2 separate regions of the Homo sapiens genome follow, and region 2 is linked to region 1. A link means that fine-mapping ties the variant in region 1 to the expression of a gene that starts in the linked region. Tissue or cell type: whole blood. Region 1 holds a variant in brackets; the other region holds the start of a gene. All regions are shown on one strand. Distances are between the middles of the regions.

Region 1 (5,226 bases):
TTGGCATTAGGGCTAGGTGTTAGAACTTCTCATAAAGTGTTCTGATTTATGGACTCCCTGCTCCTTACCATAAAATGAAGAGAAATCCTAAATTTGAAAAAAAAAAAAACCCACAGCCTAGCTAATGAGACTTCACGCTATTTGTTAATTAATAAGCATTTAATAGCATGAAGATCAGAATAACTCCAGTTTGCAAAATGTACTTACCATTTTGGAAACATCAGCAACTGAAAAGTGGGTTACATGATACAATGAGTGTAGTTGCCTTTCTCCAGACCTGTTCTGTTTCCTTGCCCTCTCTGGCCTCTTTCTGGCTCCATTTACCTTTTCCACTAGTTTACCAGATGATTCATCAACTTTCTGGCATTTTCCACTTACCATCTGTGTCCAGCATCCTGGTAAAATCCAATAAACTTTCTAATATCCAGCATCCCATTAACTATATCCTTGTATATAGCAAATTCACTGGGAGTGGATAGTCATATGATGGCCTCAAGGCAAAGGGCTCTACCACTTTTTGAATACCCACTGTGTGCCAAGTTCTGTGCTGGTTGCATCAACTAAATCATCTCACTTAAAGCTAAAGTATTAAAGATCCTAAAAAGCCATTTTACAGAAAGATTAGATTATTTTCAATTTATTATTCAGAATAAATATATCTTTTTTCTTTAACTTCTCAAATAGTTATTGAATTGTATTGGTTTAAATTAAATGCGTCATGTGTATATATAGTATTAATTCAAGAGATACAAAAGGAAATTGAGTGAAAAATAAGTCTGCCTCCTTCCCATCACTCTCATGTCTCTACCTAGAGGCAATTATTGTCAACAGTTTTTGATGTGTCTTTCAAAAAATAGTCCATTAAGCCTGGTGTACTAGATCTCTTTTAAAAGTTTACAACCTGTTACAGAATATATATAAATGTTCAATTACTAGTAACACCTTATTACATATACAGATTACAACTTAGAAATATATTTTCATGACCATTATGTCATTTGATTCTCCCTACAATCCTATGAACAAGGCAGGGGAGACATTGTTGTTACCACCTTACACATGAAGAAACCAATGCTCAAAAATGTAAAATGATCTGCCCACGTGTATATAGTTAGTGAGAGTCCCAGTTCTAGAACAATAACTAGTCTAATGCTCTTTCCGTGACATCACGGAAAAGGTAGCCCAAGGATTAGAGATCAAAAAACATTAGCCTTCCTCGATCAGTCAAAGTACTCTTTCTGTATAGTGTCAATTAACAGAGAATTTACTATGTTCAATATGGTACCAAGAGGGCATTATTCCATGTAAATAATATAGCATATAAAAACTCAATATTCTGGCTTTGCAACTGTGGTCATTAAGCTGTAACCAAACATTTCAATGAAACAAGGGCTTGAGTTCCTGTTAATGGAGATGTTTGGCCCTTCTCTTGAGATAGCCCTTGGTGATCAGAACCTACACATTGCTAGAGAAGGGTTGGGGCATTTGTGAATCTGGTCTATTAAACAAAAAAGACCAAGCAGGAAGCAATTCTATTCTTTCTTAGAACTGCCCAGTGAACTTGTTTCCTTATTTGGTGATAAAATCCTAGGTTGATCTAACATTTATGCCACCTTTCAGTTACTAACAAATACTTTGTGTTTTGAGATCTTGAAGGTCCAGTTCAGTCTAACATCAAAGCTTCCTGTGTCCCCAGCCCAGACCTGCCTCAGCAGGGTGTGGAGGGGAAGCAGTGCATGGCCAGGTGGCAGGGAGCTGCAGGGTAGCAGCAAGGTGTGCCAGGGCATGACAGCCAAACTTACCTTTCTGCTACTCTTCTTTGGCTCTTCTGCTGCCTTTGGGTCCTCCCACATCAGAACAGCAGTAGGGAGGAAAGGCAAGGTTGTGATTTGGTAGCATTATCTGGCATAGACGTTGTCTGAAGGCCGATGATTTTCTCAAGTGGAATCTTCGGAGTTTTTCCGAAACACCTCCACTAGGGAGCTGCCATTGTAGCTTCCTAACACACGTCTCCTCCAGCTATGACTTCCCCTCCTCCATCTCCGACTTCTTCCTGCTGGGGTTCCTTGTGTCTCCTGTTGGTTCCTCCTTTTGAGTGGAGCCCCATTCTCGGCTGATAGCCCAGTTCCGTTCCCTGAGTCCTCCAGGGCAACATCCCCTTTGCTGCGCCATCGGCGGAAGTGCGACTTCTCCAGCTCTCGCCCCCTTTCTCCTTTAGCTGCCACCGGCTGCTCTGTCTAGCTTCTCACCTGCTGGCTTTTCAGGTACTAATCTCTATGTGGTAGGCTGAATAAGGCCCCCACCAAAGATGTCCTTTTCCTAATCCCCAGAACCTGTGAATAGCTTACATTACACGGCAACAGGGACTTTGCAGATGTGGTTAAGGTAACAGATTTTTAGATGAGGGGATTATCCTGGATTATCGGGTAGGCTCAAAATAATTACATGATCCTTTAAAAGCAGAGAACATTTCCCGACGAAAGTCAGAGAGATGAGGCCTCGTGAGAAGGATTCCACACACTCACACTCTCGCTGGCTCTGAGATGTAGGTGCCCTTGTGCAAGAATCAGAGAGAGGCTGCAAGGAGCCAGTGGCAGTTCCCGCCGACAGCCCGCAGGGAAGCAGGGACCTCAGTCCATCAGGCAAATTGAACTGAATTCCGCCAACAAGGCGCAGA[G/A]GCCTGGAAACAGATGCTTCATTAGAGCCTCTAGGAGGGAGTACAGCCTGGCCAACACCTTGATTTCAGCCCTGTGAGGCTTGAAGCCCACACACCAGCCGCGCCCACTGGACTTCTAACCTACAGAACTGTGAGGTAGTAATTTTGCTATTTTTAAGCTGTTAAATGTGTGCTAATTTGTTTCAGCAGCAATAGACACTAATACATTCTATGTTCCCCAAAGCCTAGGGGTCCTAGGTCAGCTCTCCAAGTAATTCTCTGAAGGCCCCCTCTTATTTGCGTAAGATGAGGGGAAAACACATGAGAAGGGAGGAGGAAGCATTTTAGCAGCCTGAAAGCTCTGTCTCATGAAATCCTTGCCGTCCTCATTAATTTACAAGTCTCCCCTTGCGTAGCTAAGATTTGAGCGATGGTTTCAGGGTTATTGGACCATTTTTTTGGTCACTCCTTAGCAGATGACATCTCCTGAGAATAGATGAGCATTTTTAACAATATTTTTTTTTCTCAGCTCAAAGATGTCAGCTAGCACTGAGAAAACAGGAAAAGTCTCATTTTAATATCCTGTTACTTAAAGGTATTCACAGAATGGCTTACCGTTTTAGGTTTAACATTCTAATGATATGCCAGATGGACTGGGGTTGCTCGGAAAAAGCTGGGTGACAGGAGAAGGAGTTGAGATCCCAGAAAGAGAATTCACCACTAGGGTGGGAAGACAGACAGGTCAGAAAATAGCCACGTTGCCCAAGACCGGAATTAATGTGGATGAAACAACGCTTCTAGCCCTAGACCTCAGGCATGGCGGGATCCAAGGCAGAGGTGAGAAGGGAGTTTGTGTTCAGTGGCTCACCAGTAAGCAGGACTCTTATGCCTTCCTACAATGATCCTGCAAGAATGGAATAAACTGAGACTACATAGCTTGAGTATGTGCAATAGTTGACCACTTCCTTTCTGTGTTTTGTGGTTTCACAACTTGAGTTTCCAACAGAGCATGGGAGTGAGGGGAGTCAGAGACAGAGCAGCAGTTCTGTAACACAGCCGACAGTCTTCATGAGGGTAGGGGCAAGGCCCTACTGCCCGGTCCGGGAGGCCACATGCGGGCAGAGTCTGGGTCGTTTTCACATCTGCGGAATGATGTGTGTCTGAGGAGGGAGGCAGGTGGGAGACAACTTCCTTACAGTCCCCATCCCGTGTTGCTGCCTTTAATGAGCTTTTAGGAGGCATGATTTCATAGCCTAGTTTATTTTATAATCAAGCCCAGCTTCCTCTGTTAGACCAATCAGTACCTATTAACTGAATGCCTACCGTATGCAGGCTTATGACGCCAGGAACAAATACGTCCATGATGCTGTTGCTGTTTAGGAATTGTAAGATCATGGATAGAACCCCTTTCCTGTCAAGAGCTCACTTTTTCCATAGAGTGAAGGGCAGCTGTAAGGTTATTTCTAGAATTCTATTTTCCTTCCCTTCTCATTTCAGGAAGAAGAAGATGAACATAAAATACAAAGAAAAAGATTAATATAAAGTATAAAGATAGCTATAGAGAAGTCTTCTTCCTGGGTTGTTTGACTCGAAATTAGGGTCCTTCTATGCATATTTTGTGTTTCTCATGTAATTATCTATAATGGGTAGCCAAGAAATGTGTGTTAGCCCATATCTCCAGTACCTAATGCCATTCCTAAAATGCAATATAGTGCTCAGTAAATAATTGTTGAATCAATGAATATAAAAAATGCAAAGCAAGCATTTGAGATATTATGCTACATTTCTTTCAGCTTCAACTCCTGGCTAATGAGTGAAGAAGGTCACTGTAGGAGTGTGAGGACCATCAGGAGCTTCATATTTCAATAACCAGTGCCAAATTCTGAATGCCAGATGGGATGAGATGGGATGTTAAACCACTTCTTATTACCACGTTGTTGGCCTCCATTGCCTTCGTATTGGTCTCCAATTGCATGGTCTCTGTGGATCTCTGACTTCTTATTACCTCCGATTGGAACGCGCCACAAATCATCCTGCTTTCTTTATCCTCTCTCACCTCCAAGTAATCCTGTCATCTTGCTCCAATTAGAGCCGCTTCCATTAAGAAGATCGTGACAAATTCCCTACCCCTGTTTGCTCTTCAGGAAAATTATCCCCTGGAAAAGTGGATGTTATAGTCGCTTTTCAGAATGTATTGTCTGAATTTCTTGTCTTCCAACATTCTCCTAAGCCAGTTACCTTTGCACTGAAGTAGAATTCAAAAGGAGATAGAGGTTCTGAATTTCTTCCTTTGACCAGATGGAAGTCGTTACATCAGAATGCTGATGACTGCAAAATCTTGGACATATTGTTTTCACAATTAGGAAATGGCAAACACAAAGTTCTTCAGTGCAAAGCCAGCATGCGAGTTCAGCTTCCATTTGCTGCTATAAATTTTGTTCTTGTTGCTGCCAGTAAACACCAACTGTTCAAGTGAAATAGTAAATCCAAATGTGCCTGTTGGATGAGAGTAAAAAAATTATATGCTGCATAAATGCTGATGCAAAAGGATTTTTCAACACACTAAACCA
Region 2 (5,226 bases), 130 kb before region 1:
ATGCACTGTGGGGATGTGATGTGTGATGGGACTTAGGCTAGATGATCCAGTACTCTTCTGCAGTGAGATGGGCTCATCCCATCTGACTTCACGGGCAGAGTGTGGAGGAAAAGGCATATCTACTGAGAAATGAGGGTATGATTTCTATAAAATAGTGAAATATATGTTGTGAAACAAACATATCAGATATCTAATACTTTGTCCTTTTGAATGTGCCCTTTATTACAGAATGGCCTCAAATCGTGAGTACAGTGGGTAAGAAGTAGGCTATCTGTTACTTCGTCTGGTAGCCCAGCAAACGTAACTACGGAGGTGTTTTAGACCAAAGGTAGATCTGCTATGCTATTGACTCATCTAAATAGACTATGAAAATTTTTCCTGAGTTAGGCTCTCATATCTCTAGCTTTGGAACACAAGCCATTTTGAGATCATAGCAAAACACAGTGCGACCCACAGCCAAAACAGACAAAACACTCAGTTGCCAGATGATCCAGGGCTTCCTAAGAATACTAGAAAAAGCAGGCAGCAATTTAAGCAGCATGTGCCATCCCTCAGGCCCCAAGGTTTTCTGGCACCCTTCTGTCATGCCCCCTGAGGTTCAGTTGGTCTCATGGCTCTGACTCAGTGTGGTATGTAGAAGAGTGGGGCCTCAGGTCAGCCTGTGTCTAGTGATTTCAATTCTGCTCTTGGCTGCAATTCCAACTGTCAAGAAAGTTTTGCAGTCAGCCATTTGATAGTGGAAGGGTTAGCCCATGAAACTGAATTTCCTGTGTATCTGGAAAGAGAGGCAGCCCTAGAGATCTGACATGCTCTGTGAAAATTAGGGGTTCATTTTTGCTATTGCTGGTTAGTCTCTGCTGAACCTAATATATTTCAACATTTGAAGACTTTTTTTAAAAAGAAAATTTTTTTCTTTCTATTTTTTATTATGAACTTAAGTAACTTCATGGCAAAAAAATCTAATCAACATTAAACTATTTACTTCCCTCCAAAGTAATTTCCTCTCTGTCAATGCACAGACGTGCATTTTTACTTAGTTATAATTAGTGTGAACATACTCGTTTTTGTTTAAGAAAGGTTTTCTTTACCTTGGCATTCAGATTCGTTTTCATAGGCGAAGAAAGCACTGGGAAGGAGAAGGAACCTTTGCTGGCAAGTTGGGAGGATTATATGGGGTCATACTATCCCAGGGTTAAGGAAACCTTAAAGGACCCAACATCCCTCTCCATATCTCTTCTGATGATCCTTTTGTGCTCACAGACTAACCAGTGTGGCCTTTTCACTCAAAAGCCTCTCCAGATCTGCACAGCACCAAGGGTGCAGTCTGGCTCCCAAAGGAGTAATGCAATTCCATCCTCAGGTCTGCCAGGGCCCACCTGTCTGTCGTGGGCATGCACCATTGCCCTGGCTTTACTGGGCTGTTGGGTTGTCTAGTGGTTTTCCTTGCAGAAAGCAAGCAGGAACAATGCTGCTCCGGACTGGTTTTCCATACCACTCCTCTCAAATATCTTCTATTTTCTTAAGTGTGATCACACACCCATGGTTTCCAATCTATCAAAGCATAACATTGCTAGTCGCTTTTTTCTAAGTTAAGGAAGTAGCCATGTTGGGTTTAATTAAAAACAGCAACTATTTGTACAGCTGTCCCTAAGTTCATGGCTCATAAAAGGATTAACTTCAACCTTGCTGCCTAAGTCTTTTGGGAGTGTCACAAAAAAACATTTAGGCTTTTCTGGGCAGTGCCAGGCCTGGGCCTTGAGGCTTGCTGATGCTAGTTCAGCCACCAGGCTCTCGGTGCTCAAGTGGCACCCAGCAAAGCAGAGAAGAGCAGAACTTCCAGATACACAACTCCTCCTTCTTTTGTTTGGGGGATGCAAGGCCTTGAAGGCTGCTTCAACAAGTTTCTGAAAATTCCCCTCGGGTTGGGAAAGGCACAGTCTTCCTTTTGCAAGTTTTTCTAGAGCCCTTCGTACTTTTGCCCTAGAGTGGGTCTTTTGCACCCCCACCTCCCAGACCTCAGTGGTCATTGGCAGGCATCCTTCGAAGGAGGTGGGGGCGGGGTATCCCCGCCGATGGATGCGCCCGCACAAAGCAGCACGTTTTCTCATCAAAGCCCTGGAGAGAGGGAAGAAGCAACGCTCAGCATTTCGCTGATTTTCAAGTGCACACCGAGCAGCGCTTCAGGCAGCTTTGGGTCAGAACACGCCTGATTCGGACTTCAGGCGAAGGCAGAGGCCAGCACGGGTCACCGATTCAGAGCCGGGGGCGGGGCCGACCACACACGCTGTGAGACCCAGAGGCCGAGGAGCCGCGGGTTAGAAAATGTGACCTTGGCGACCCCAACGCCCCCGCCTCCCTCGCTGCTGCTCCACCTGCACGCGGAGCGCGCCGGGCCGCCAGCGGAGGCGATGGCCAGCCCTGCGCCCTTAGTGGCCTCCATCAGCCACCAAATGGTGGCTCTGCAGACCTTGCAGCTGCTGCAGCAGGAGTGGGGCTGGGGGGACGGTCCAGTCGCCCCCGGGAACCCGCGGGACCCAGACCACGTGTCCACCGCTCCAGCCCGTCGCTCAGGCCCGCCGCGGGCCCGGCCGGGGCCCGGGCGCGAGGAGCGGGGCGGGGGCGTGGGGACCAGGAGTCGGCGGACCGCGGCGCGGGCGAACTCCCCAGAGGAGGAGGTAGTGCGAGGCGCTGAGGGGGGCGCCGAGTTGCTGCCCTTCCCCCGGGACCGCGGGCCCTGCACCCTGGCCCAGATGGCGATGCGCAGCGCGCTGGCCCGCGTGGTGGACTCGACTTCGGAGCTGGTCAGCGTGGAGCAGACGCTGCTGGGGCCCCTCCAGCAGGAGCGGTCCTTTCCCATTCACCTGAAGGTGAGTCTGGCCCCCGCCATCCCCTCTGGCGTGCAGGGTAACCTCCCATCCTCCAAGGGTGGGGCTGCTGGGATGGCGATGGGTGGATCGCAGGATCCCAAACACTGCTGCCCACTGTGATTCAGCCCCAGTGGGAGAAGGAAGGGGGCGGGGGACACTCTGGGGACTCAGCAGGAGGGGCAGGGAGCCCCAGACCCACCTGAGGCCCGCCTGGCTGGCACAACCGAGATGTGGGGACTGCCTTGCCAAAACCTCCCCCTGGAACTCCTTCCTCTCTCACATAAATCAGCTTCCTGCGCTAGAAAGGCCCTTTCCACACGTGCAGCTTGTAGGGATAGAGGACAGCTCCCCCCACCCACTTTCCAAATTAATAACGCTTCCTCCAGAGCCTTAAATACACTTACTAAGTCCCTTCTGCCTTTTGTATGATGAAATCATCTACATTTATTTAAAGTTCCTTCACATTCATGAATCACTATTATTTTTTGCATAAATCCAATTCCCCACAGAGCTAAGGGGTCTTACAGAGTCAACCTACATTCTCATAAAGTGGGGTGAGAGCTGGGTGGGTCCCGGGTGTTAAAGCGTGAATACTAAATGCTAAACTCTTGCTAAGTCACCCAGCTCATATAGGTAGGGCACATTTCCTCTTAAGGTACCAAACTGTGTTAGCCAATTTAGCCCGGGAAGGGAGCAGCTGTCTCCCAGGCTGAGTGAGATTGCGGAAATCTGGGGGTCTGGGTTTCAGTCCTGGACTTGCCATTAACTAACCTAATTGGTTTAAGGTCACGAATCTCTCTGAGACATTCTGGCTTTCAGATTTTGACCAGGAGCATTGCTGTATTTTATTTCCCTGGGGCATCTAGCAGAAGGAGTTGGGGAGGGGTGATGAGGAGAGCTTAGAATATGTCTCAAGAGTTGCTATTCTGTACAAGCCAAGGTTTGGAAAAAGTTGCTATACATTAAGTTGCACTATACACTGTAAAAGATTTATTTAAAATCAAACATAATAAAGCCTATTATATACCCAAATAGGTATTGTTTCTCTACGTAGGGGTTTCTCAATCTCTGTACTATTCACATTTTGACCTGGCTAATTCTTTGTTGTCGGGGGTTGTCCTGTGTATTAGAGGATGTTTAGCAGCATCTCTCGCCTCTACCTGTTAGATGCCAGCAGCATATTCCTCGCCGCAAGTTGATACAGCCAAAAATGTCTCCAGACACTGCCAAAGGTGGCGGGGGCGGTGGGGTGGGAGGCAAGATGAGAAGCACTCCTACACTCACTTTAGAAAGTTAGAAAATGAAGCTGCATTTCACCAAATGCTCTCCAATGTAAGATGTACTTTTTTTTGGTATCACCAAAATTTTTTTTAATCCTGTCATTGAACTATGATACACCATTGATTATAAGTTACATGCTAATTTAAGGGATTTTTTTTTTTTTTTTTTTGAGACAAGGTCTGCCTGTGTTGCCAAGGCTGCAGTGTGGTAGCCATTCACAGGTGCGATCATAACACTACAGCCTCGAGCCCTGGGCTCAAGTGATCCTCCTGCCTCAGCCTCCTCAGTAGCTGCAACTACAAACCTGTACCACCACATCTGGCTGATTTCAGGGATTTTTAAAAAATGTGAATAAAAGTGCATTTTAAAATAGATGAAATATGAAGTGACTTGTGATGTCAGTAGCACATACAGGGCATAGGTAAGGCTGGCAAAAAGAGAGACTGACAATCAGTTTTACCTAAGGTGACCCTGGAAGGCTTCTCAGAGGAGGCAGCCTTTAAAAAAAAAATACATGTTATTTTCCAGACATTAAAGGGAAAAATATTTCAGGAGAATACTTTGGTTAAGGCCCAGCAGCACTGAAAGGGACTGAGGCTCTAGAGGAACTACAGTTAAGTTCAATATGGCAGAAGGCAAAAACTGATGCTGGAGACACAAATGGGGGCCAGTTAGGGAAAGGCCTGTGTGTCATGCTGAGGACCTTGGATTGTCTTGCAAGCAGAGGGTAGGTAAATCACAGAAGCCTGGATAAATCACAGAAGGGTAGGTTTCAGTTTGAAAGTCAGGTCAGAAGACAGCTGTCTAAGGGCTTGACCCAACTCAGTGGCAATGGACTAAACCCCGTGTCCTCTGCTCTGGAAGCAGTCCACTATAAACTATGCCATTTTAGCTTAATGCCACAGTCACTTCTACTTGGAAATCCTTTTAGCCCTTTCTAATTGACTTTTGATTCTAAACATTTTCCATCCTCCTCAAGCCTTCTTCATCCAAACCTCAACCCGCTCACACCTTTTCTGAGAAAATAGAGGCCAGTGGACAGAAATATCTTTCTACCTAAAAAATTGCATTTCTACTC

The links. PIP is the estimated chance that this variant, and not a neighbour inherited with it, causes the effect.
Region 2: it holds the start of DLEU7, and the variant in region 1 is fine-mapped to the expression of DLEU7 in whole blood (TOPMed, PIP above 0.99). The same link has a PIP of 0.9 or more in blood mononuclear cells.

What each region holds. Positions count from the first base shown.
Region 1 is chr13:50,712,464-50,717,689 of GRCh38, reverse strand. It overlaps a transcript of DLEU7 not described here. Among named protein-coding and RNA genes, the nearest start is that of DLEU7-AS1, 93 kb to the left of the region's middle. The variant G/A (reference allele first, on the strand shown) is at 2,678.
Region 2 is chr13:50,840,829-50,846,054 of GRCh38, reverse strand. DLEU7 (deleted in lymphocytic leukemia 7) reads left to right here and starts at 2,363. Exons shown (of 2, transcript NM_001306135.2): 1 at 2,363-2,867. The coding sequence starts at 2,409. All of the region lies in intron 4 of DLEU7-AS1 (DLEU7 antisense RNA 1), which reads right to left. RefSeq lists an enhancer at 2,507-3,433.